2 separate regions of the Homo sapiens genome follow, and region 2 is linked to region 1. The links come from fine-mapping of genetic effects on gene expression. A gene starts in region 1. The other region holds a variant in brackets. All regions are shown on one strand. Distances are between the middles of the regions. Region 1 holds the start of EI24 (EI24 autophagy associated transmembrane protein). Region 2 overlaps FEZ1 (fasciculation and elongation protein zeta 1).

Evidence for each region.
Region 2: its variant is fine-mapped to the expression of EI24 in whole blood (INTERVAL, PIP 0.92).

Annotation. Positions count from the first base shown.
Region 1 is chr11:125,560,948-125,576,986 of GRCh38, reverse strand. EI24 (EI24 autophagy associated transmembrane protein) reads right to left here and starts at 7,510. Exons shown (of 11, transcript NM_004879.5): 1 at 7,414-7,510; 2 at 4,418-4,529; 3 at 1,579-1,724; 4 at 672-732. The coding sequence starts at 4,459. It overlaps STT3A-AS1 (STT3A antisense RNA 1), which reads left to right. Exons shown (of 4, transcript NR_132372.1): 2 at 3,413-3,531; 3 at 6,545-6,697; 4 at 8,869-8,879. It also overlaps the pseudogene RNU6-1156P. RefSeq lists enhancers at 6,793-6,842, 7,345-7,846 and a silencer at 7,283-7,842.
Region 2 is chr11:125,433,731-125,444,256 of GRCh38, reverse strand. FEZ1 (fasciculation and elongation protein zeta 1) reads left to right here. Exons shown (of 10, transcript NM_005103.5): 10 at 1-1,376. Among named protein-coding and RNA genes, the nearest start is that of FEZ1, 57 kb to the left of the region's middle. RefSeq lists a silencer at 10,490-10,526. The variant A/C (reference allele first, on the strand shown) is at 6,728.

The DNA of each region.
Region 1 (16,039 bases):
AATGAAACTTTTGGGGGCATACAGGAACATTTCAAGTAGTATTCAGGCCAAAATACAGGCATGTACTAAGTACACAGGAATACATATTAATTAAATTTAAAACTAACATCTGAAAACATCTGTGAATTGTTTAGATTAAGAAGTGATGAATTACTCTAAATTCTAAGTCAAAGGAAATATTTATCCATTCTTCAAAGTACCCAAATTTCAGTTAAGCCTGCACTGGGATTCTCAGTAAATGGTAGGCAATCTTTTCTGCTATAGGTTTCAATGCAAATTAACTCTTGTTGATCACTATAAGCAGAAGCAGGGAGAACCTTGTTCTTGTCTAGCCGTATCTGCCCTTCCCGAGTCCCCATAGTTGCTGTTAGCATTTTAAAATGTCTAGACAGTGTCAAGAGAAACTGCTACCTCTAATACTTGTGAATGAGTCATTTTAGAAACAAAATTCAAGTGTATATTCAGGGCTGTGACGTTTGCTTACATATAAGTGTGCTTTCCTGAGTGGGAATAAAATCTCTGCAGATGCACAGACTCCTGAGTTATATTTCTAAGTGTACATCAGCAGATGAAAACTATTTGTCTCAGTGTTTCAAGAAAACAGTTCATAGCTATCAACCCAGCAACAATCTGAAGATGCTTATAAGGCACCTGGAATTTAAAGAACTTACCCAGAACACTCCACCATTCCAAGCACAACACTGGAAAATTCTACTAACAATACGTGGCTCACTGGAAAAGATCACATGTATTTAGTTTATAAAGCATAAGTTATTTCCTAATTGTCATTCAGTAGTTCATTTTATATCTTATCTTTTGTGGGTACTGTATTATTTTTCAGTGCCTCATGTTCTCCCAATGTTCTAATGTCAGTCAATGAGAAAAGACTAAAAAAATGGTCAAGCGCAGTGGCTCACGGCTGTAATCCTAACACTTTGGGAGGCCGTGGTAGGCGATCAACTGAGGTCAGGAGTTCGAGACCAGCCTGGCCAACATGGCAAAACCCTGTCTCCACTAAAGAATATAAAAAATTAGCCAGGCGTGGTGGTGCGCACCTGTACTTCCAGCCAGCCGGTTCGCTGAGGCAGAAGAATTGCTTGGACCTGGGAGGCAGAGGCTGCAGTAAGCTGAGATTGCACCACGGCAATCTCAGGTGACAGCTTGGTGACAGGGCAAGAATCCGTCTCAAAAAAAAAAAAAAATGTGTATATATATGGAACCAGCTTTTAAAAGAAAAATAATTTATTTTCTAAAGTCTGATGATGGAAAAGATTAAGAGAAAGTGTGGGGCCAGGGTTCTTCTATTAATACATAAATCCACACAGGCTTCCCTAGAAGTATCTATCAAACCAAATAATATTTTGCGATTCTCTATTCAGCTTTCTGATTTAACACCATGACATTTTTAGCAAGGATTATTGTTAGACCCTAGTTTAAGTCAATGTTGTTGGGGGGAAATCACTTGCAACATTTTTCTGGGAAAAAGCACAAAAGAAATAAAATGGCACTGAAACATCAAGTCACTATGTAAGGTCTTCCCTCCCTTGGACATTTTGATATCAGGCATGCACTCCTTACCTCTCTTGCTTCCGCTCTATACTCTGGGCTCTTCTCTGTGCCAAGACACTACTTGCCCTTCTTCGACGCTGCTCCTCTCTCTTTTGCTGGATTCGAGCATCTAGCTTTGAGATGGTACAAATACCCCAGATGGAGTCTTTGATTCCCTATAGAAAAGGCTATCATTATTATTATTATTATTTGAGACAGGGTCTTGCTTTGTCACCCAAGCTACAGTGCAGTGACTCAATCATAGCTCACTGCAGCCTCCAACTCCTGGGTTCAAATGATCCTCCTGCCTCAGCCTCCCAAAGAGCTATGAGTACAGATGTGCACCACCACACCTGGCTTTTAAATTTTTCTTCTGTAGCGATGGGGATCTCACCATGTTGATCAGGCTGGTTTCATACTCCTGTCCTCAAGCAATCCTCCTGCCTAAGCCTCCCAAAGGCTAAGAATTCACTCATGCATCCATCTCCCACCCACGTACTGAGTATCTTCAATAAGCTATATATTGTCATATAGAAATGCTCAAGAAGCTTATAACTTAGTAGGAAAAGCACACAAGTAAACCAAAAAATTACATTAAAGGTTTTTTTTTAAAAAAGTTTTTAAATATGAAACATTTCATGAATTTGTGTGTCATGCACAGGAGCCATGGTAATCTCTGTATTGTTCCAATTTTAGTACATGTGCTGCAGAAGCAAGCACACATAGTTTAGTAAGTGCCACAACAGATGTATGGCCCAAGTAGAGTGTTAGCACTGGGGCATTCAACTTCATGAGAAGGCAGAAAAAATTATTCTGGAAGCAATGGCCAAGCTGGATTTAAGAATGGATAGCATTCTCGTCTACTGTTATCAGACAAAACGAATTTTAGAAATAATAGCTGGAATACAGAGAAATGGGCAAGTTGATGTATTATCTGTTAACAGGAACATAAATTGGCACAGTGTGCCTTTGATCTTTTTTTGTCTGAGTAATTTTTACTCTTAATTTTGCTTTTAACTCAGGAAACTCCAACTATCTAAGATAGTTAAGTTCAAATGGCTGAGGGCCTAGTACATGCTAGGATGATAGGATCCCCACCTCTAAGACATCTACAGTCCAGTGGGGCAGACAAACATGTAAATAGCACACTGTAGAACCAACACAGGGTTGAATTTTTTTTTTTTTTTAAACAGAGTCTTACTCTGTCGCCCAGGCTGGAGTGCAGTGGCATGATCTTGGCTCATTGCAACCTCTACCTCCCAGGTTCAAACGATTCTCCTGCCTCAGCCTCCTGAGTAGCTGGGATTATAGGCATGTGCACCACGCCTGGCTAAATCTTTTTTGTATTTTTAGTAGAGAGGGGGTTTTGCTGTGTTAGCCAGGCTGGGAGGGTTGAAATTTTACAGCACATGAATGGCAAGACAACAAGGTAAAGATGTTAAAAGTAGATCATATGCTGCTGGGCACGGTGGCTCATGCCTGTAATCCTAGCACTTTGGGAGGCTAAGGTGGGCAGATCACCTGAGGTCAGGAGTTCAAGACCAGCCTGGCCAACATGGTGAAACTCCGTCTCTACTAAAAATATAAAAATTAGCCAGGCGTGGTGGTGTGTGCTTGTAATCCCAGCTACCTGGGAGGTTGAGGCAGGAGAATCACTGGAACCCAAGAAGTGGAGGTTGCAGTGAGCCGAGATTGCACCACTGCCCTCCAGCCTGGGCGACACAGTGAGACTCTGTCAAAAAAAAAAAAAAAAAAAAAAGGAGATCATATGCATAAAGTCTTTTTAGACCTTCTAAGATACTCTTTCAATCCTCCCTCTTTTACTCAAAAGTAATAACCTTTTTACTTTCTTGCCCTGCTATAGTGCACTGGTACCATCATAGTTCACTACTGCTTCATACTCCCAGACTCAAGCAATCCTGCCTCCTTGGTCTCCCAAAGTGCTGAGATTACAGCTGTGAGCCACCTCCCCTGGCCATAAAGGTAACCTTTTAAACTCTTCCACTAAAGAAAGAACCTCCCCACTCCAAGAATTGGCCTCTTTCATGCTAGTGGAAATATAAGAGGGGGTTACAAGTGAGACATTATTAGGCTTCAGACATACATTAAAAGTAGCAGACTTTTGTGCTATTGGTAATTTGGATGACTGGGTCCTAACCAGATCTTTATAGGGCATTTTCCTAGAGTATCCTCCTCACGTGCACAGCTTGTAGAATGGGGAGAAAAAAGGTTCTGGCAGGTGCAGTGGCTCACTCCTATAATCCCGGCACTTTGGGAGGACAAGGCGGGTGGATCACTTGAGCCCAGGAGTTTGAGACCAGCCTGGGCAACATGCCAAAACTTCGTCTCTACTTTTAACAGAAAAATTTTTAAATAAATGAAAAATTGGGAAAAAAAAAAGATAGGTTCTCTAATTTAAATCTGAATTAATTAGTTTAGGTGATAGTACTGAACCAATGTTCATTTCTTAGTTGACAAATATACCACGGTTATATGTTAACATTAAGGGAAGCTGATGAAGGACATACAGGAACTCTCTGTACTACCTTATAACTTTTCTGTAAATCTAAACACATTCCAAAATAAAAAGTTAAAAAAAAAAAAAAAAAAAGCTCTGAAGCCAAGATGATTAGGGTCCCAATACTGGAGACATCCACCGAAGAGGTCTTCCAAGCACCTGCAAGACTGTCTGCAAGATGTAGAACAATACCTATTTCTTGAGTAGTGTGGTCTAGAATAACAACCTTTATGTAAAGAACCCAAGAAATATGATAAAAGTTCCAAAAACCCTAAAGGATTTCCTAGATGGTTCCTTCAGCAAAAAAAAAAAAGGCCGAGAGATGAATTCCTATAAACAAGATGTACTCACTCTGGCAAGGTCCTGGAGAAAGGTTTTGACACTGTCAGCCATCTCTTCACCACCAAACTATCAACTACACACAGGAGAGAGAAGTGTCCCCAAATCTCTCATCATGAAGGATCTGGAAACAGATGGAACATAATGGAGGCAAATATTTATTTTAAAGATAAGTTACTTCATGCACATTTCCACATGATGACCTCACATACTTGTAGCTCTAGTAAGATAGCAGTAGATTCTAGCACTAATAGAGTGAATCAAGTGAAGCTATTCCTGTACAGCTGAAACCTAAAATCCCTATTTTTTTTCTAAAACACTCACCACCCTTTCATTTTTACAAGGGGTTTTACATTTTACACCCTCTCATTTTTACATTTTACATTTTTACAATGTGCTCTTGACCAGTAACCTCCTCTGAGCCTCAATGCCCCTAACTATCCCTCCTACACATTCTAAGCACTTTTGAGGGTTTGGAGATGGAAGATAATTACATTTCAATATCTTCTTAAGCAATTTTTATGTTTGCTGGATACCTTCAAATACTTGAATGAAAATACAAGAGCAAGATAAAAGTTCTTACAAAAATTACTAAATACATGCTTCAGTCATACAGAGCCCTCGGGCACAGTAAAGTTTAAGGTATGACATGAAATTGCGTACCAAAACCTCCAAATAGGTCTTTTTTATTTTATTTTATTTTTTGAGACAGAGTCTCGCTCTTGTTGCCCAGGCTGGAGTGCAACACTGGGCTCGGCTCACTGCAACCTCCACCTCCCAGGTTCAAGTGATTCTCTTGCCTCAGCCTCCCGAGTAGCTGAGATTACAGGAACCCGCCACCACGCCCAGCTAATTTTGTGTATTTTTAGTAGAGATGGGGTTTCGCCATGTTGGCCAGGCTGATCTCAAACTCCTGATCTCAGGTGATCCATCCATCTCAGCCTCCCAAAGTGCTAGGATTACAGGCATGAGCCACCACGCCCGGCTGGTCTTTTCTGTTTTCTAACTTTAAATATATACAGATACAATTTTAATAAACATGCAATAAATAGTGGATTTTAAACTAGGCCTCAAAAAAGTTCATATGTATAAACAGTCTTTAAAACAGTAAGGCTTTCCCATTTTATTTCTCAGGTGAATGGGATATCTAGTTTCAAAAATTAAGAACTTGAGAGTTCATGTGAGAAATACTTGTAATTAATATACTATTCTCTCATTTAATCTGTGGTGACTTCTAAGATGAATAGAAAACCCACTTTCAGGCATTTTTTAAGAACCTGATATTCTAAAGTTCTCAACACTCACTCAATCAAGTTGCAGTATTCTCAGTTTAAGAGGTATGACCATAATACAAAGACAGAATTTCACAAGCAGCTTGTACAAACCTTAAATTTCAAAATATAAGCACACTTTCCCCGACCTTTAACCACTTCACCAAACTGCTCCTCATTGACCCAACTGGACTAATGCCATTCAGAACTGGAAGAGCAGGGGATATGGCAGTAGGAAGGCAATTTGCCCAACATTGTATATACCCTCTGCTCCTTAGGTCAAATCCTACACAGATAGGCTCACTTCGGATAGAAGTCTCTAGGGTAAGAAACTTCTGTTAATACTCCCACTGTTTCCTCCTGAAAACAAACACCTCAGAGTTCCAGTCGCGTAGGTACAGCCATACAGACATGTTCTCAGGGTTGAGGTGAGGGCAGCTGAGCTAGATAACTAGCAAAGGCTCAGTGATATGCACGACACTAGTTTGTAAAGACTCACAGATCCACTCCCGTAACCTGCCACTGGCTCATCTATAAATTAAGGGTACTAAACTTCTTCATAGGTTTCTTGCATCTAATAGGGCACAACAGCATGAAAAAAACTTAAAATTCTATATAAACACAACCCCACCAAAGTGAGCCAGCTTGGAGGTTTAAGGAAGCCCATTACTTGGCCTGGATTTCTCACAGGGAACTGACAGGGAACCTGAAACATTCTGTCTCAGTCCACAACAGCTGTGTCATTTGATCCCTGGCCAGCTAACACCTGGTTTCTGCATGTACCAAGTGGCAGGACACCTCCTAAGAGTGACCTATGAAGGATAAATCACTTCACTTTTATACTTAGATCCTAACATCCTTCCTACAGGAATATTTGGTGAATTACCCAGTCTGACAAATAGCTGAGGCATGGGGAAAAATAACCTGCCACAATTTGAGAACACACACACAGACTGAATGACACAGGGGGAATCCTACAGCTGAGCTAGACAGATGAAGATGCATCTGGCTCATTTAACAGGTGAGAGAACCCAGTCTCAGAAGTTAAATGACTTGCCCAGACTGACAGCAAATGAATGGCAGCTACAGTGAACCTCAGAACCCGGTGTTCTAACGTTACCTCGGTCGAGACTTGTTTTTACTTAAGCTTTGCAATGAAGATTTTTGTTTTAACACGAGCATCCCATGGACAAATAACCTCTCAAACCTGGAAATACAAATGCCATTAAATTCCCAACAGTCATTAGAAGCTAATAAGCATCTGCTGAGACACACTTTTATTTCTAAGTCACTAAACCCAAGTCTCGGCAAACAGGAAGCTGTCGTAGCCCACTCCAGGTACAGGGAAGGTAAACATCCTCACTTCCCACGGGGCTCCACGGGCTGCCTCTGAGTCCACGGGTCCATTCAGGCCCATCTCCCCACAGCTCCTAGGCAATTCGGCAGAAAACTGGTCTCCCTAGGCACAACTGTGCACGAGGTACGGATCACGCGAGGTGCGGATCACGCACGCTCCGGGTCACACAGGGAGCTAAAGATAGCTGCGCCGCACCTGGGGCAGCCTCGCCCGGGGATGTGCCCGGCCCCGTCCCGCTCCCTCCGGCCCCTTCCCATAAGGGGTCCTCGCCGGTAGCCCCACCAACCCACGCTCGGGCCCTGCCTGCCCTCCCGGTCCCTGCCACTCAGAATGGGCGGCGCGGCGGCCCCGAGGCCTAGCTCGGCTGAGCCCGCACCTACCCACAGCTCCGCCGCCGCGGCTCCGGCCCTGCCCCTAGCCCACCGCAGGCCAGCTCCGCCGGGGCGCTTCCAGGGCCGGGGCCGCTGCGCCCGCACTGGGCATGCCCGGGCCGCACGGGGCCGCTGGGAAGTCGGGCGAGCGCGAAGAACCAGCCGGCACCACGAGGCGGGGCCCAGAGCCGAAGGGGTGGGCCGCGCGGAGCGACGGAGACTGGGAAATGTAGTCAGTCCGGGGTCCCGCCTCGCGCTGCGTGCGGGATCGTCCGGCTCCCAACTCCGCCTGGCGGCGGAGAGGACCCCTCACCCCTCCGCGTCGCCTCCTCCCCGTCGCCTCCTCGCCGATCCCGTTCTCACAGATCTCTCCTCCTGTTCTTTGCCCTCCCCCATTGACTCCACAACGCTGCTTGCGTTTCTAAAATCCTGTGAAATTAGTAACAGGATGCCTTTAATCCCAGCATTTTGGGAGGCCAAGGCAGGCAGATCACGAGGTCAGGAGTTCAAGACCAGCCTGGCCAACATAGCGAAACCCCATCTCTACTAAAATAACAAAAATTAGCCAGGTGTGGTGGTACCTGCCTGTGGTCCCAGCTACTCAGGAGGCTGAGGCAGGAGAATTACTTGAACTCAGGGGATGAAGGTTGCAGTGAGCCGAGATCACACCACTGCACTCCTGCCTGGGCGACTGAGCAAGACTCAGTCTCAAAATAATAATAATAATAATAAATTTAAAAAATGAAATAAAATAAGTGGCTGGGCACGGTGGCTCATGCGTGTAACCTCAGCACTTTGGGAAGCTGAGGCGGGCAGATCACTTGAGGCCACCCTGGCCAAGATGGTGAAATCCCGTCTCTACTAAAAATACAAAAAATTAGCTGGGCATGGTGGCACACACCTGTGGTCCCAGCTACTTGGTCGGCTAAGGAATGAGAATCACTTCAATTCAGGAGGCAGAGGTTGCGGTGAGCCGAGATCGCACTACTGCACTTCAGCCTGGGTGACACAGCTAGACTGTCTCGAAAAATAAAATAAAATAAAACAAAACAAAACAATATAAAATAGAATAGAATAAGGAATCCATCTACTAAAGCTTAGAAATCTTGTTACAAAGAGACCTAAGTGGTTTAATGACAAACTGATTATTGTGCTATTAATTATAATAATAGCTCTTCCTCCAAGCTCTATTCTTTCTCAAGAGTGTCAATTTAGAAAAGATTTTAGAAAGAATTTAGTAGGTATGAGTTTATTCTGGCTTACTTCATGGGAGGAAATCTTTTTTTTTTTTTTTTTTTGAGACTGAGTCTGTCTTTGTCTCCCAGGCTGGAGTGCAGTGGTGCGATCTCGGCTCACTGCAAGCTCCGCCCCCTGGGTTCACGCCATTCTCCTGCCTCAGCCTCCTGAGTAGCTGGGACTACAGGCACCTGCCACCAAGCATGGCTAATTTTTTTGTATTTTTAGTAGAGACGGGGTTTCACCGTGTTAGCCAGGATGGTCTCGATCTCCTGACCTCGTGGTCCGCCCACCTACAGCCTCCCAAAGTGCTGGGATTACAGGCGTGAGCCACTGCGCCTGGCCGGGAGGAAATCTTTTAAATCTCAACATGTATAACCACATTTAAAATAAAAACCAATAATAATTAATACCTTGCATTTTTAAAGAGCTCTCACATGCTTATGTATGATTAGATGCTATTTGTGGACAAGTAGAGGATATTATTTTCCAAATTTCACAAATGAGGAAGTTTGTGGCAGAGCACTTTGAGAAGACATGACCTCCAGTTAAGCTGTGAACCTTAGTTTCTTTTTTTTTTTTTTTTTTTTTTTGAGACAGTGTCTCTCTATCTTGGCTCACTGCAAGCTCCACCTCCCGGGTTCACACCATTCTCCTGTCTCAGCCTCCCAAGTAGCTGGGACTACAGGTGCCCGCCACCACGCCCGGCTAATTTTTTGTATTTTTAGTAGAGACGGGGTTTCACCATGTTAGCCAGGATGGTCTCGATCTTCTGACCTCGTGATCCACCCGCCTTGGCCTCCCAAAGTGCTGGGATTACAGGTGTGAGCCAGCACGCCTGGCCCAAACCTTAGTTTCTTTAACACAGGCTGCTGAAATAAATGGTATATATATGAAGGTGTTTTTTAACTGTATGGATATATGATTTAGTGAAATGATAACAATACTAGATCTAGTGATAGCGACAGGAGACAGCCAAATGCCTAGGCAGTTAGTGGCGGGTCCCCATTGAAACCCCACCTCCAAGCCAAAAACAGTTTAAAGCTCGAAAGCCAAGCTACAAGTTAAGTCCTCAGACCAGATTGAGAACTTGTCTTCCTGTCTTGCATGTTTTCCTCTGATTGATCCCCACCCTTCACCTATTTTACATATACCTACCCTTTCCTGATTGGTTTTCTACACTGTTGTGCCCACCTTTGAGTGGTGCCTTTGCTTTAACCTTTCTTGCATAGCCACAAACCAATCTGCACATACTCCCCATCCTGTGCCTATAAGGACCCCTGACTTAGTCAGTAGAGTGGGAGACCGCCTGACTTTGAGGAAGACGACCTGCCCTTCCTGTCCCTTCTCCAGCTCCCCTCACTGCTGAGACTCGTTTTCATCACTAAAAAAAATTCTCTGCCCTCAACATCCTTCTTTGTTTTTTTCTTTGTTTTTTTTTTTGAGACAGAGTCTTGCTCTGTCACCCAGGCTGGAGTGCAATGGTGCAATCTCAGCTCACTGCAACCTATGCCTCCTGGGTTCAAGCAATTCTCCTGCCTCAGCCTCCTAAGTAGCTGGGATTATAGGCACCTGCCACCACGCCCAGCTAAGTTTTTGTATTTTTAGTAGAGATGGGGTTTCACCATGTTGGCCAGGCTGATCTCAAACTCCTGACCTCAGGTGATCCACCCACCTCAGGCTCTCAAAGTGTTGAGATTACTGGCGTGAGCCACCGCACCTGGCCCGCCATCCTTCAATCCTGCATGTGACCTCATTCTTCTTGGACACTGGACAAGAGCTTGGGACCCACCAAGTACAGGTACCCAGAAAGGCTGTCACACTGGTCCTTTGCCCCCACCAGTGGAAGGCAGCTGCCCCACGTGACAAGGCAAAGGGCCAACTGAGCTACTAACACACTGCTGTTTGTGGATGATGAAACTAAAGGAGCACTGTAACACCCGCTCTGAGGCTTCAGGGTCATGGGCACTTTCACCTGGGCACTGCAGTGTTCCTCTTGAGGCAACATGCCTGGTCTGGCCACAGGCCCCACACAGAGCTTGCTCCTGTGCCAGTGCCCAGAGTGGCTGGCTGGATCTTGAACTTGCTTGCTCATGTGCTCCCTCCTGCAAGTGGTTGATTGTGGTGGGCCTGGTAGACAAGGCGCCCCCTTCCATGAGTTTGTCAAAGGGGCCAAGAAAAATCCTGCATCATTAGGGGCCAGATCTCCTAGCTTCCAGCCTTGGAATCTTCTAGGAGAGAGAGATACTATGATTTATTAAGCATCTACTATACCAAGCCTTTTATATTTATTATTTCAACAACAATTTAAGTGTTGTAATGAAAAATTATCACTATTTTTTTTTGTTTTTGAGATAGAGTCTCACTCTGACACTCAGGCTGGAGTACAGTGGCATGATCATGGCTCACTGAAGCCTTGACCTCCTGGGCCTAAGCAATCCTCTTGCCTCAGCCTCCTGAGTAGCTGTTGTAGCTGATTTAAAAAAAAATTCCATGCCTTCCTATTAAGAAAAAAAAACTCCAACCAGGTTTGTCTAACGCCCGATTCCACACCCTTTCCTCTACCATATTTGTGTTCCATTATGGATCACAAAAGTCTTCTCATTTAAATTTAGGTTGTGTATTGTCATTATTAAAGTAGTGCTCCTCTTTGTTTTGCCTGTGGTTGCTAAAAGAAAAAAAGAGAGAGAGAAAGAAAATAATGAAAGTGTTGGCCAGTATGGTGGCTCATGCCTGTAATCCCAGTACTTTGGGAGGCAGAGGCGGGTGGATCACCTGAGGTCAGAAGTTTGAGACCAGCCTGAACAACATGGTGAAACCCTGTCTCTTCTAAAAATACAAAAATTAGCCTGGTGTGGTTGTGCACACCTGTAGTCCCAGCTACTCAGGAGGCTGATGCAGGAGAATCACTTGAACCTGGGAGGTGGAGGTTGCAGTGAGCTGAGATTGTGCCACTGCACTCCAGCCTGGGCACTAGAGCGAGACTCTGTCTCAAAAAAAAAAAAAACAAAAAAAAACTGCCATTCCTCATGGGTCTTACAGATGCAACTCCCTGCTGGGAACTCAAGCCCTTTTTTTTGCCAGGAAAGGTAAAATCATCTGGGGGTAGAACCAAAAAATGTACAGGTTAATAGAATTATGAAATTTAAGATGTTTAAACAGGGTTTATGTAACGTAGTTGTAATCTCTTTGCCTAAATGTCTTATGAAAATGGGTATTGTATCTAGCTGGAGGATGCTTCCCCTATCTAGTACTATAAAACCAAAGACATGTAAAGCTGCTCTTTTGAAAAGTGTTAGTTGGACATGTTAATGGGAAATAGTAAAATCACCTGAGCCCACAAAGTATCAGGTAGAAGCTAGAGTACTAGTTGGGACAAATCATCCCCTTCATAGCCCTTTGTGGAGTGTTTATTGGGGATAATGGCAAAAAACAAAACAAAACAAAAAACTCTTATAAGTACTTCCCAATGACAACTACCGGACTAGAGAATTTCCACTTGAGGTGCATTTACTGCCTTGCTATGAAATGTTAACTGAAGCTACCCCTATGCTAACTGAAATAATGATGCCCCAAAGAGTTCCATGATAAAATAAAATCTTGCCACCTGGGGATACAAGGAGGAGATACTCATAAGCAGGGAGCCGCTTTCTCCCTAGGACTGATTCTAACTATGTATGTGAGGAGCTGCTAAATTCTGCAGTGCCTGATAGACAGCTTTCATGAGCTGTTTGGCTTACGAAGGGCATTTCCAAGGTAAACAAACATCTTGTTTGAAACTCCTGACCTCAAGTGATCTGACCGCCTTGTCCTCCTAAAGTGCTGGGATTACAGGCCTGAGCCACCACACCTGGCCAGGAACAGCAAATTTGATAAGGCTTCTCAAACAGTCCTATGATTTTGCAAGAGGGAAACTTATGTAAAAGGGGACCTCTTAACCCCCAAATTTCCCATGACCTGGGTAATAGGCATCTTCAGTGGGAGGATATCCCAGTTATCATAAAGCCAGTCATTGCTCTCATATGAAGCATATTATTCAATAACTGCTTCATCTGGGGTGCTTCACTTGGTATTTTATAGGGAGAGCTGGGTAGTCCGCTTCACAGGGCAAACAGACCTTACAGTGGCATTTATCTGGTCTGCTAGCTGATCATTCTTTCAGGAATAACCTCCTGTGCATTTAGATTACATATACTTATCAGTGATTGTTCAATAGTGAGCTGTGGGCTCTGCATTAACCCAAACAAGTTCTTCAATTCTGTAGCATTTAAAATTAAGGATTTTGTCCATAAATTGTTTATTTTTACAATCCACTATAGTAAAGATTTTTTAAGAAGCTGATGATACCAATCTACAAAATGGAACCATTCCTTTACATTATACCCTCTGGGTTTGTTTTGTTTTTTGTTTTGAGATGGAGTCTTGCTCTGTCACCCAGGCTGGAGTGCAGTGGCATGATCTTGGCTCACTGCAACCTCCACCTCCCAGGTTCAAGCGATTCTCCTGCCTCAGCCTCCCAAGTAGCTGGGTCTACAGGCGCCCACCACCACACCCAGCTAATTTTTGTATTTTTAGTAGAGACGAGGTTTCACCATAATGGCCAGGCTAGTCTTGAATTCCTGACCTCGTGATCCGCCCACCTCGGCCTCCCAAAGTGCTGGGATTACAGATGTGAGCCACTGTGCCCAGCCTATCCTCTGGTTTTGATAGTTACTTGGTTTTGCCTTTCACCCACATCAACTATCTTCTTGGAAGCCACAGGTCTCTGAGATAAACTTATTTCCCTGTCTTAATTTGTGTTTTTTTTTTTTTTTTTTGAGACGGAGTCTCGCTCTTTCGCGCAGGCTGGAGTGCAGTGGCGCAATCTCGGCTCACTGCAACCTCTGCCCCCCAGGTTCAAGCGATTCTCCTGCCTCAGCCTCCCAAGTAGCTGGGACTACAGGCATGTGCCACCAGGCCCGGCTAATTTTTTGTATTTTTAGTAGAGACGGGGTTTCACCGTGTTAGCCAGGATGATCTCGATCTTCTGACCTTGTGATCCGCTCGCCTCAGCCTCCCAAAGTGCTGGGATTACAGGCGTGAGCCACCGCGTCCGGACCTTAATTGTTTTTTTAACCATTACTTTTACTTGTATACTTTTTCCTTCAGCTTAAAGTGACTTTTCAATTGTTTCTTAACTAGAAAGAAACACACTTTTTGTTTTTTGCAAAATCCTTATCTTTGTGTTTTATAAACTTCGCCAAAAACATTTTTTATGCTCCATTTTAATTTAGTAACCCAAATTTCCTATGGAAAAAAAAATCGAGGTTTTAACATAATATGACTTAAACCTTTTAAATTACTGGAGACAGTTTTGAGGTTAAATTTAACAAATTAATTTTACCAAAGATTACCAAGATCATGTGAATTAAAAGTGTCTGAGCTAATTTTTACTAATCTGATAAGCATTTCTTTTCTTTTAAGTCAATTGATTAGCTCTTTTATGTAGTTTGGTAGTGATAAAAGAAAAACTTTAGCAGAAATAAATTTAAAGGAGTTTAACTGAGCAAGGAATGATTTGTGAATCGGGCAGCCTCCTGAGCCAGAGTAGGCTCTGAGACTTCAGTGCAGCCACATGGTGGAAGAAGATTTATGGACAGAAAAAGGAAAGTGACATACAAAAAACGAAAGTGAGGTACAGACAGCTGGATTGGTTACAGGTTGGAGTTTGCCTTATTTGAACACAGTTCAAACAATTGGCTACATTTCATTGGCCAAAACCTTGTGATTGGCACAACTGTAGGCTACGGTCTGTTTACACCTCCACTTGTTACAGTTCACGATGTACAGATAAACCTTTAGGTTCAACTTAAAATATATAAGGAGGCAGCTTTAGGCTAAACTTTTTTTTCTTCTTGTCATACTTTAGTAGGCATAGGCTAATCTTGATTTAAAAATTCCCCACTTTTGGTCATCTTCTCAATTTTGAGAGATTGACCAAAACTTCAGTCATTGATGTCACTAATACCATCATAAATGTACTTATTTGGTCTTGAAACCCACTGGGAAATAGTAGAACAGCAGGTTTTGTAAAGTAGGAACAAAGACTGAGTAGAGGGTACCTCCTTAACAAAGACTGAGTAGAGGGTACCTCCTTATGCCTGAACATCCTGTTTATAGGAGAAAAATAAAACCTGGTCTGGTCTAGAACCTATGTGTTTTCTTAAAGTCTTAGTTTGATTATGTCACATTTAGCATGAGTAACTCCATTTTGGTTTGGTCTGGTCCACTGGGGCCTAGTTCATGAGCTCAGTCCAAAACAATGGCCTCCCATAATGTTGTTTTAAAATTCCCCCCTTTCAGTCAGGTTCTTACTTAGGTGAGGGTGTGACCAAAACTTAGGGCCTCAGCACCACTCTCAGTTACCATCATTTTGGGTTTCCGGTCTCAGCACATCACTTATAGGTTACAGTGTCCTTATGGTCAGACATTTCTTTCAGCTCTTGAAACTGTAGTTGAAGAGAGACCATTTGACATTCTAGAGATGGCTGCATGCAAACACTTAAAATCTTTGAGAGAATACAGCACACCAGAGAGACTACTATTATGACTATCAGGAGGCTAACACCAAGAGTATGGAGTATGCTCCTTACCAATGGTCTCCATAAACCAAACCACGTAAAACTAAATAGATCAAAGAATGAGTTAGATAAAGAGTCTACTCACGTAACTAAGCAGTCTCTTAATTAATCCCCTGCAACTGAATCTCTATAATGTACATTTGAGGTATTTCTCCATAGACCACAAGTGCCAGCAGGTGCACAGATACTTCTGTTTAGCCAGTAAGTAATCTAGAGCAATACTATTATTTAGCATAACTTTCACAAGAGAATTTAAAGTCTGTTGCATAACCATGGCCTTTACAGCAGAATCTGCTATAGAGCCTATCATGAGGGATACATTTCTAATCATTGCCTCTTTTACTCCAAACCGTCGAAAAAAGGACCTAACAAATGATGTCCTTCTAGAAGAGTGAAGGCCTCCTGGCAATATTCTCTTTAACCCATGATGTGGGTTAAGAGTAGTGAACCAATGTTCTGTTTCTGGCTGACTGTGAGGCAATGTATGTATCGTTAAAGTTTCTCAACCTACGTTGGGCTTTCATCTTTCATCTATCAAAATGTAAGGTTATCTGTGTATAAAGCTGGCTACAAAATCCCTGACAAATAAAAGTATACCCCATAAGTGCACAGAACAGACCCCCTTTTCACCTCTATTGTCTATAGAGGCATAAGCAAAGGGAAAAATATTCAAAGATAAATATTCTACTATCTCATGATAGTAGAGAAGTCTTGATTCATGATCTTGGGAAAAGCTGTCCACATCAAGGATGCCATTTTCTTAGGAGAAACTTCCCAGG
Region 2 (10,526 bases), 130 kb after region 1:
GTGGCGGAGACTTATCCCCCCAGGAAAACTGCTGCAATGCCTAAAGCTCTAGTCCAGGCATCTGCCCAGAGCAGAGCTTCTCCATAGATAGAGCCCCGGCTGCCACAGGAGCATGGAAGTGACAACTCGTCCTGTGATAAAAGGGCATGGATTCAGTTCGGCAGTTCACTGGTGCTAAGGCTGAACATGCCCAGGGTCATTAGTGGTGTGAGGTCATTAGCATGTTTAGCACTCTGCCGGCGACGGGGTTTTTCACCAGCCTCAGCAAAGGGGAAGCAGTGAATTCCTGAGAGCTTTTCTTCCTGCCTTGGATTTGTCAGATCTGGGTCAGCCACTCCTTTCCCCCAATTTATCCTGCCAGCAGGTGTCTGAAGCGGCAGAGACAAGCTAATCAAAGCTGCTGGGAGTTAAAAATAAATCTCGAGTGTTGGGGATACACTCTGGCTAGGAGGAGGTGAGCAGGGCAGGCTGAAAACAGTGGCTCCTCCTTTCTCTCTTGTTTGTCCGTCTATCAGGAGTTTAAGGGGAATATGAAATCAATTCCTCATGGTTTTGCATTGCCCTTCCCTGTGTTCTTCCTATTCAAAGTGTGCTTTCCAGGCCAGCAGCACTGACCGCACTTAGAAGCTTGTTAGAAATGCAAAATCTCAGGCCCCACATCAGGCCTACTAAGTCAGAATTTGCATTTTAACAAGGTCTCCCTTTAAAAGGGAGGCAGCTCTTCTCTTAAAAGGAGCCTGGGTTTTGTGCCTTGAGTTCAAATGCAGCTCTACTACGTATTAAGCTAAATCTCCCTGCAACTTGTATTTGCATCAAGGATTAGAGAAACTCTGCCCTAGGTTTTCAGAGTTGCTGAATCCTTGACTCTTCAATGCTGAACCTAGGGAATTTGTGGCTAGTGTGATTATCAGGTGAACCCAATTGTCTTCCCTCAGCTTTTCCCTCTTCTGGTCTTTCTGGATTGTAGAAACCTCACAGAAGAGTCCCAAGAATTAACTGATTTTCAGGCCTGAGTCAATCCTGATTGCAAAACTCAAGTCCTGTCTAGGATGTCCGCACTCCGCAAAGTGTGCCAGAGAGCCACGGTCTGCAGGGAGCCCTCCTAGGTAGGTCAGAGGTCTGTCTGGCAAATACAGCCTATAAATGAGGTATGTTTCCATCAATTAAAGGATTTTGCTAGGCCTAGTCTGGTCAAGTTCTGGTAAGAAAACTCCACCACAGGGCCGGGCGTGGTGGCTCATGCCTGTAATCCCAGAACTTTGGGAGGCCGAGGTGGGCAGATCACCTGAGGTCAGGAGTTTGAGACCAGCCTGGCCAACATGGTGAAACCCCCTCTCTACTGAAAATACAAAAATTAGCCAGCTGTAGTGGTGCACGCCTGTAGTCCCAGCTTACTTGGGAGGCTGAGGCAGGAAAATCACTTGAACCCAGGAGGCGGAGGTTGCAATGAGCTGAGATTGTGCCACTGCACTCCAGCGTGGGTGACAGAGCAAGACTTTATCTCAAAAAAAAAAAAAAAAAAAAAAAAAGGAAAACACCATGGCACCAGAGGCCAGCCTTTATTTATGTGTAATTGAAACAAATGGTCATGCGGGAAAAACTGTTTTTCAAATGGAATATTCCAACAGTCTCTATCCTTTCGTCTCTACTTCAGGAGACCAATGTGATACTTCAGAAAGAAAACCCAAAGGGAGCATTTTGTGACCCTAAGTTTGTGGGACAAATTGGATTTTTAAAGTTAAATAAACCCTTTTCATACTTGCTGGACTAATGTCTGGAGAATGACTATCTTCCACTGGTGGTCAGGGAAGAAGGGATGGAGACCGTTAATGAGGAGACCTGGTCCTCCAGGTGTCTTAGGGTTCATTATAACCCAAGTCTTAATGGACTTCACCGAGTCCATGCCCAAGCCTCTTTTGAGCACCCACTATGTCCCAGGCACTCCCACCACAGCCCGGTCACTGAGAGGTTTAGGGGTCTCACCAGAGGTCAAAGGCAAAAAGCACCCCAGGACGCCCAGCTTTCTTTGCAGCAGAAGCAAGAAATGGGGAGTGGCAGCTTCGTTTCCAGGGAAGCCAGGAGAGGTGACTCTCATCACCCAGTCAGCCTCCGTAATTAGTATGCGTGGAGTGGAAAGTAATTAAATGCTACTCTTGGAGAAGAGATACTTGCGTTCTTGATGGCGCCTGATTATTTATTTCCTTGAGAGGATGAGAGAATGGTCGTTAGGGTTTCTGTCTGAGCCTGAGGTTTGCTCTCTTCCCTTCATCAGGGAAGGGAAGCCAAGGCCACTTTGCTCGCTGGGAAAGTGCTTTGGTTTCTTACTAATGCCTTTCTTCTAAAAGAACAATGAGCCACCTTAGCCCACAGCCCAGCAGCTCTGCACCCCGCCCAAGCCCTCATGCATATTCATCCTGCTTCAAAGAGCACAACATGGAATATGCAAATTAGCCATGCAGGAGCTGGTTGGCATTTTGATAACAGCTTTGTCTGAAAAACCCCAGAGACACATGCACATCTAGTTTCTCTCTTTCTCCCTTTCTCTTTTCTCTACCCCTGTGTCCTGCTTCTCACTCTCTTCCATTCCCAGCCTCCCAGAGAACAGGAAAATGAATCACAGAACCAAAGAAGCAAGTTATGGAGGAGCCCGGTGTCTCTATACCAGTCCAGTGTATTTCCACTTCTGCCTCTCCTCTCTCCTCCTTCAACAGAGTCGTTTTATTTTTTCCTACCAAAGTGTTGCCTGATCTGACAACATCCCAAGGTTTCCGGCTTGTCCTATGCTCTCCGTTGACTCCCCCGACTCTTGCCTGGGGACCCATTCTATGCCTGTCTCTCAGGGATTAACTTCCTTCCCTTTGTCTTTCTTCCATCTTCCAACCTGTTTTGCCCTTACTCTCAGCAGTCAAGGCTAAGAACCTAAGAACCTAGCCTTGCCTTCCAAGCAAGAAAGGAAAGGAATCAGCTGCACAGATCAGGAGAGAAGGTTTGGATATCAGCTGTCATCACCGACAGGTCACTGGGACTCAACATTTCCTGACACACACCAATTTCCAAAACACATCTGCACAACCATCACCAACAGTGCCGACGGCGGTGCTACTGCCCCCTCCTTTATCCCAGCAGCAGCGTCTCCTTCATGAGTTGCTTTCTAACCCCCTCCCATAGCAGAGCTACTTGAATAGCATGAAGAGGATTTTCTTAAGTTCAGATGACGTGAGTCCCGCTCCTTCTCCCCGAAATGCAGATGGTCAAGTCAGGAGCTGGTGGGTGACAGAGTAGGTGCTCTGCTATGGGAGAAGCAGGCTGGGGCTTGAAGCCCACATCCTTAGATGCTGTTTCATCCAGGACCTTGGAGGAGAAAGGCATAGGCAGGTGCAGGGATACAAGCACCTCTTGGGATTTGAGGACAGAGGGGGCCTCTCTCCTTGACTCCAAAGGCCAGCCTGGGTCAGCCAATGATTGGGGAGGCAGCTTATCTCCTAAAAGGAGCATGGGCTTTGTGCCTTGAGTTCAAATCCAGCTCTAGATACATATTAAGCTAAATAATTTTTTAGAAAATTACTTAATTTCTCTGAGCCTTGGTTTCCTCATTTAAAAAATGGGAATACTAATATTAATAATACTAGCAATTCTCCCACAGTTGTTTTAAATAATCTTTAGTGTCTAGCATATATGCTACGTGCTCAATGAAGTGTGACTTTTATTTTTTCCTAGTAAACTTTGAAAAGAGAAAGTGCTGGTTCTGTTGCGTCTTTAGCCTTGGGGACGTGACCATTTTTTCAATTCAACAGGCACAAAAAACCCGAAAACAAAATCAAAACAAGACAAGTACAACCTAGCCTGTTGCCCTAAAACGAGCTTTTTTTTTTCTTTTTCTGAGATGGGGTTTTGGAGTTTCACTAGTCGCCCAGGCTGGAGTGCAATGGTGTGATCTCAGCTCACTGCAACCTCTGCCTCCAGGTTCAAGTGATTCTCCTGCCTCAGCCTCTTGAGTAAGTGGGATTACAGCTGCTTGCTACCACGCCCTGCTAATTTTTAAAATATTTTTAGTAGAGATGGGGTTTCATCATGTTGGCCAGGCTGGTTTCGAACTCCTGACCTCAAGTGATCCACCAGCCTCGGCCTCCCAAAGTGCTGGGATTACAGGCATGAGCCGCCATGCCTGGCCTAAAACCAGCTTTACACCTACCCTTTATGCTCATTAAATCCTGCTTAGTGGTAGCCCAGGGAGCCCTGGTGCTTGCGGATTCTGGAACTAGCGGCCTCCAAGTACATCTGGACAAGAAGACAAAGTGAAGTGGCAAGAGTGGGAGTGTATTCTGGCTTCTCAGCAGGTTCATTCAAGGGAAGGGGTGGAGGAGGGATAGTGAAAAGTCACATTTATTTTTGAGCTTAGAGAACAGACTCTATTTCCACTGGCAAAGAGATGGGTGGGTTCACAGAAGAAAAACACACAGACCACTGCAGACATGCTCAGGGAAGCCTCCTGTGCTTTATGGATAGGCAAGACAGGTGGGAACATGAGGATTAGTTGAAGAGGTTGGAGAAAGGTCCTGTAGATCTCCTGAACTGCTGCTGCTACAAATTACATAAGCCCTGAAGACCACAAGTATGCAGTCTGGAGGGTTCCTACATATTCCCTCTGTCTGCAGAAGGCAGAGCTCAGATCACTGGGTGGAAGTTGGAGGGATCAGTTGGCTCTGTGTAACAACTTGGGTTTCTTTGCCCTGGGAGGTAGTGCGCAGTGTAAGGTAAAGAGAAATGACATTTTTTTTTTTTTTTTTTTTTGAGACGAGGTTTTGCTCTGTCATCCAGGCTGGAGTACAGTGGCATGATCATGGCTCACTGCAGCTTCAGCCTCCCGGGCTCAAGCAGTCCTCTCACCTCAGCCTCCTGGGTAGCTGGGACTACAGGCACGGGCAACCATGCCTGGCTATATATATTTTTATTTTTATTTTTGTACATATGGTGTGGGGGGGGTCTCACTATGTTGTCTAGGCTGGTCTCAAACTCCTGGGCTCAAGCAGTCCTCCTGCCTCGGCTTCCCAAAGTGTTGGGATTACAGGTGTGACCCACTGTGCCTGGCCAGGAGATGACAATTTAGTGTTCCGTGGGCAGGGTTCCTATATGGCACGGGTGAGTTGGGATTACTGACCCACAGTACCCTTTTCAGGGCTGAGAAATGATTTTTTTTTTAAACTCTAGGCTTGGATTCTTGTTAAGACACAAATTCAGCTGAGACGAGCAATACTGAGAGCATCAGGTGTTTTCCGCTCAGAGCGACTCACTGCAGGTCCTTTTGTGGAATCAGGTTGAGAATCTCTGGGGTGCTATTAAAAATGCACCTACCTGTGCTGCACCCTGTGAGTTTCTGATTCAGTAGATGGAGAATAGAACTTGGGTGCCTGTAACTGAAGCTTGCTCAGCAATTCTAAAGTGCATTCCAGCTGAGAAGCCCTGGGTTAGGGGTTGGAGGAGAGATGAAGACACCATTGGATTGGGAGGTGGGGAAGATTCCATCATAACAGAGCAGTTATTTAATATTTCACCTCCTTCCAAAATGTGTCCCCACACGATTCACAGTGTTCTCCAGTTGAAAAGGAAGCCAGACGTGTGAAGCTGTCTGGCTGTTGGAAGCTGGGCAATGATGTCAATGTCAGCTTCTCCAGCAGGGTGGGTGGCTTCCAAGGAGAGCAGCTGCATTCCCAGGAGAAGCCGAGAAGCTGCTAAGCTGTCATCCACAAGACTAGAGTTTCATGGACTATCAACCGAAGGGGCTCCTAGTGCCGTCTCCTCTAATCCCCTCAATATGCACATGAGGGAAGTTGCTTCAGATGGTCCCTGTGTGTAAGGGAAAGTTACGGGCAGAATCTCAACTACATCCAGGGGAGCCCAGTGTTCTTTCCTGTGCAAAGGGGTCAGGGGAGGTCCACAGATGGGCAGAGCTGGCCTTAAATGAATTTGGTAGAATAAAAATTTTGCAATACATCAGTGGAAACAGCTAGAATTTCTAGAACCTAGAAATTCACAGGAATAACAGGTGGATGTGAGGTATACACACCTGTAGTAGAATCTCTGAATAATAAGATGAGAAAAATGCAAAAATGAAAAGGTATAATGAGATACACATAACTGAAGGGAATTGTCTTAAATGGCTGATTGTAATGAGATGTACATAAATTGTAAGGCTTGTAATGAAATGAAAAGAAATCATATTCTTGCCTGATAATACTGGGTGTAATGTCTATACCAGAAATAAGTTGTCTCAGTGCATTGAGTGTAATGAGATGCACATAATTTTAAAGAGCGTAATGAGATGAAAAATAAATCAAACACTTGTCTTAAAATGAAAGATGTACTAAGATGCACACACCTGAAGGGCATTGTCCTAAATGGGTTCGATTTAATGAGATGCATTTAATTTGCAAAGGGGCTAAATGAGATTGGCCCAGAGAGAGGCTGAGAAAAAGTATAAGATACGCTGGAAAGTGGTATAATAAAACCTGCCTCATCTGTGGGATGGAAATAAGATGCCAAAGTGGAAATGGAGCGTGTGAGGTGACCACCATTCTGTCAGTCCTCGGTGCTCGGTCCCTTGGTCTGTGATGCTCTGCAAAATTCATCATCCTTTGTCCCTCATAGGTTACCAGGCACATAGTGGGCACCCGGGAATTTGTACTGAATGAATCACTGGCTTGAGGGTGGTAGTGTATCTGGCTAAAGG[A/C]AGTTAAAGGAGCAGCTATAAAGCAAGGAGCTTCAAAAGATGATTGAAAATTATTTTCTTTTTTTTTTAAATTTTTATTTTTGAGACAGAGTCTCACTCTGTTGCCCAGGCTGGAGTGCAGTGGCGCTATCTCGGCTCACTGCAACCTCCACCTCCCAAGTTCAAGCGATTCTCATGCCCCAACCTCCCAAGTAGCTGGGACTACAGGTGCATGCCACCACATTTGAGTAATTTTTATATTTTTAGTAGAGACAGGGTTTCACCATGTTGGCCAGGCTGGTCTCAAACTCCTGACCTCAAGTGATCTGCCTGCCTCAGCCTCCCAAAGTGCTGGGCATGAGCCACCATGCCCGGCCAACAATTGAAAACTATTTTCTGAGAGCAATGCTCCTCCAAGTCTTTGGGCATCTTGCCTAGCTATCTGGGGCAAACACCGGTTGTGGAACCTACATTGTATCTATAACAAGCAACCCTGGTGATTTTTATGCCTCTAGCCTCATTGTTGCCTGGGGAGGCAAGGTAGGCAGAAAATGTATGAGTGAAGATATCTGGATACGAGACACAGGTATACTTTGCAATGAAAGGTAGGAGTACTTTTATGCCCACAAACAAATACATTCTCTCCAATATTTTGTACCAAAGGCAGGGCCCTCCCTCTTGGACTATCTTGTTTTCTTACTCTTTTTTTTTTTTTTTTTTTTTTGAGATGGAGTCTTGCCCTGTCACCCAGGCTGGAGTGCAATGGCATGATCTCGGCTCACTGCAAATTCCGTCTCCCAGGTTCAAGTGATTCTCCTGCCTCAGCCTCCCGAGTAGCTGGGATTACAGGCATGCACCTCTATGCCCAGGTAATTTTTGTATTTTTAGTACAGACGGGGTTTCACCATGTTGGCCAGGCTGGTCTCGAACTCCTGACCTCATGATCCACCCGCCTTGACCTCCCAATTGGTCAAACTCAATTGACCTCAGGCCTCCCAGTTGGCCTCCCAAGAGGCCAAGCAATCCTCTTGATGGATTAATGAGTAGAGATAAATATTTCCCTTCTTAAAAACAACCACTTAGCTATTACAGCAAAAGGGGGTTTAAAAAAAAGGACATGGGGGAAGCTTAACTAAGCCACCAGCCACCCAAATAGTGACAGCCAATAGTAAATAAGCAATGAACCCTCAGCCTCCGTGTTGGGGAGACCACAGGGGCTGCGAATGTCCTGATGACACAGAGAACGTGCCTTAGGGGGCAGCAGTTAATTCAACTACACTCAATCATGGCCAAGTGGGATTATATAGGTCCCAAGTCGCCTGATTGCCTGATTTTTCAGGAGAAGCCAGGAATCTGATTTTTTAATGTGTAACCTTCTAACTTTTAAAAGTTGGCACACAATTTTTAGACAATATATGGCTCAAAACAGGTCTGAAAATTGAGCTTAACCTGAACCTCACAGTGGAGCTGAAAGCTTCCTGCTTTGCAACTCTGAATGAAGAAGTTTGAGTTCTCTGTGGTAAGGATGAGATCATAGTTATAGCCATTACAAGGATGCTACGAGCACTCTTTCAGTCTCAATCTTTTTCTTTTTTCTCATGCATATTCATTTTAAAATAGTAGAGATGCGGGCAGGTGGGGGCGGGTCTCACTATGTTTCCCAGACTGGTCTTAAAATCCTGGGCTCAGTGATCCTTCCACCTTGGACAACCAAAGGGTTGGGATTACAGGTGTGAGCCACCGTACCTGGCCCAGTCTCAGTTGTTTCTAGTAGAATGTAAACTCCCTGAAGTAAAGAACGCTGTCCTTGTTAGCCACAGGTGTATTCTTGTAAAACAGTGCCTGGGACAGAGTCGGGGCTTGATAAATGCATGCTGAGATAATGAATGACTCATCAGGAATGAATTGGAGCAGGCTGCAGTGTGGTGGTCATTGCCCTCCTGGGGCCCCATGCAAGGCAGGAGAGGGGATCCTCGGTCAAGGAAGTTGAGCTCTGGCCACCAACTCCCATGAGCAGGATCTCTGAGCTTGAAAAGTCTTTCCTGATGGGTCGGGGGGTGGGGGGCAGAAGTCAGTCTGAGAGTTGCCAGAGCCCTGATATCAGAGTTCGGTTTTGGGTAAAGGAAACCTTCCCCTACCCCTCGCCCTGTCATCCATCTCTTGAATTTCCACAGGGATTATGGCGTGTCTTTTCCTTGGGTTGGGCAGCATTTGGGTCATGCACAGAGAGAGGTTGTTGGCTCCTAAAAATACAACTACCTACATCTCAAGTGATTTCAGAAACCCCTTTTCAGCCGGGAGTGGTAGCTCACGCCTGTAACCTCAGCACTTCGGGTTGCCGAGGCAGGCAGATCTCTTGAGCTCAGGAGTTGGAGACCAGCCTGGGCAACATGACAAAACCCCATCTCTGCAAACACAAAACAAAACAAAAAAATTAGCTGGGCCTTGTGGTGCATGCCTGTAGTCTCAGCTACTCAGGAGGCCAAGGCAGGATAATCACTTGAACCTGGGAGGCGGAGGTTGCAGTAAGCCGAAATTGTGCCATGGTACTCCGGCCTGAGTGATGGGAGTGAAACCCTGTCTCAAAAATAAATAAATAAATAAATAATAATAATTTTAAAAGGCCGGGCGCAGTGGCTCACACCTGTAATCCCAGCACTTTCGGAGGCCAAGGCAGGTGGGTCACCTGAGGTCCGGAGTTCAAGACCAGCTTGACCAACATGGAGAAACCCCATCTCTACTAAAAATACAAAATTAGCAGGGTGTGTTGATTCATGCCTGTAATCCCAGCTACTTGGAAGGCTGAGGCAGGAGAATCGCTTGAACCCGGGAGGCAGAGGTTGCGGTGAGCCGAGATCGTGCCATTGCACTCCAGCCCTCCAGCCTGGGCAACAAGAGCAAAACTCCATCTCAAAAAAAAAAAGAAAAGAAAAAAGAAACCCACTTTCAGTTGGCAGCGTGGTTGAAAAGATGGCTGGCAGAACTTGATAGAAAAACTTGGCGGGGAGAGTGTAGGACAGGCTACTCTGCAATTTCTTTAGAATAGTGTTCCCTAAAGTGTGTTTTGTGGAATATTGGTATAACTTGAATAGATATTACTTGAAAAAAAGGGAGGTGGAGCAAATCTCGGAACAATTGAAACAAAGTTCAACAGGTTTCTTTCCTGTAGGACTTTTTAGAGCCTTTAGTATAATAATGTGCATGATGAAACTCTACTAACAAAACAGAATATGCAGTTAATCTTAGGCTAATTTGGGCATGGATTTTTTTTTTTTTTTTTGGTAGCATATCTTTCAACAGTGTGTTCCTTAGAAACCACTGTCTTAAAGGACTGTTGTCTTCCCAGCTCTGGAGGTGAGGTTCCAATCATCGTGCAGTTCTTAAGATTTTCTTCCTCTACCTAGAGAGGCGGGGTTTCTGTAGGGTTTGCAGAACTCTCTCCAGGTGTGAGGAGGGGGAGAGATGTTGGGCTCCCTGAGGGCAGTGATGCAGGGAACTCCACCAGAGCTGGTCAGAGCCCACTTCGCCTGTGTAACCAACCACTGGCTTCCCTATCTTCCACCTGGCCATGGGGTGATCTGCCAGTACGTGCAAACTCTCCAGCATTCCTGAACATGAACAAGGCACTCCCTTCCTGCTTCTAAACAGATGCCCCAGACCTCTCAGCAAGTGTGGCTAAAGAAGGTACCCTCTCGTCTGGAGCTGACAAGAAGGCCTGCCTCTCACTTCTGTGTGGAGATCAGCTGCCTGAGTTTCTTCTTGCCTGGGGGATTATGGTGCTGATCCCTGGGATTCAAGGCCGGGAATGGAGACAGGAAAG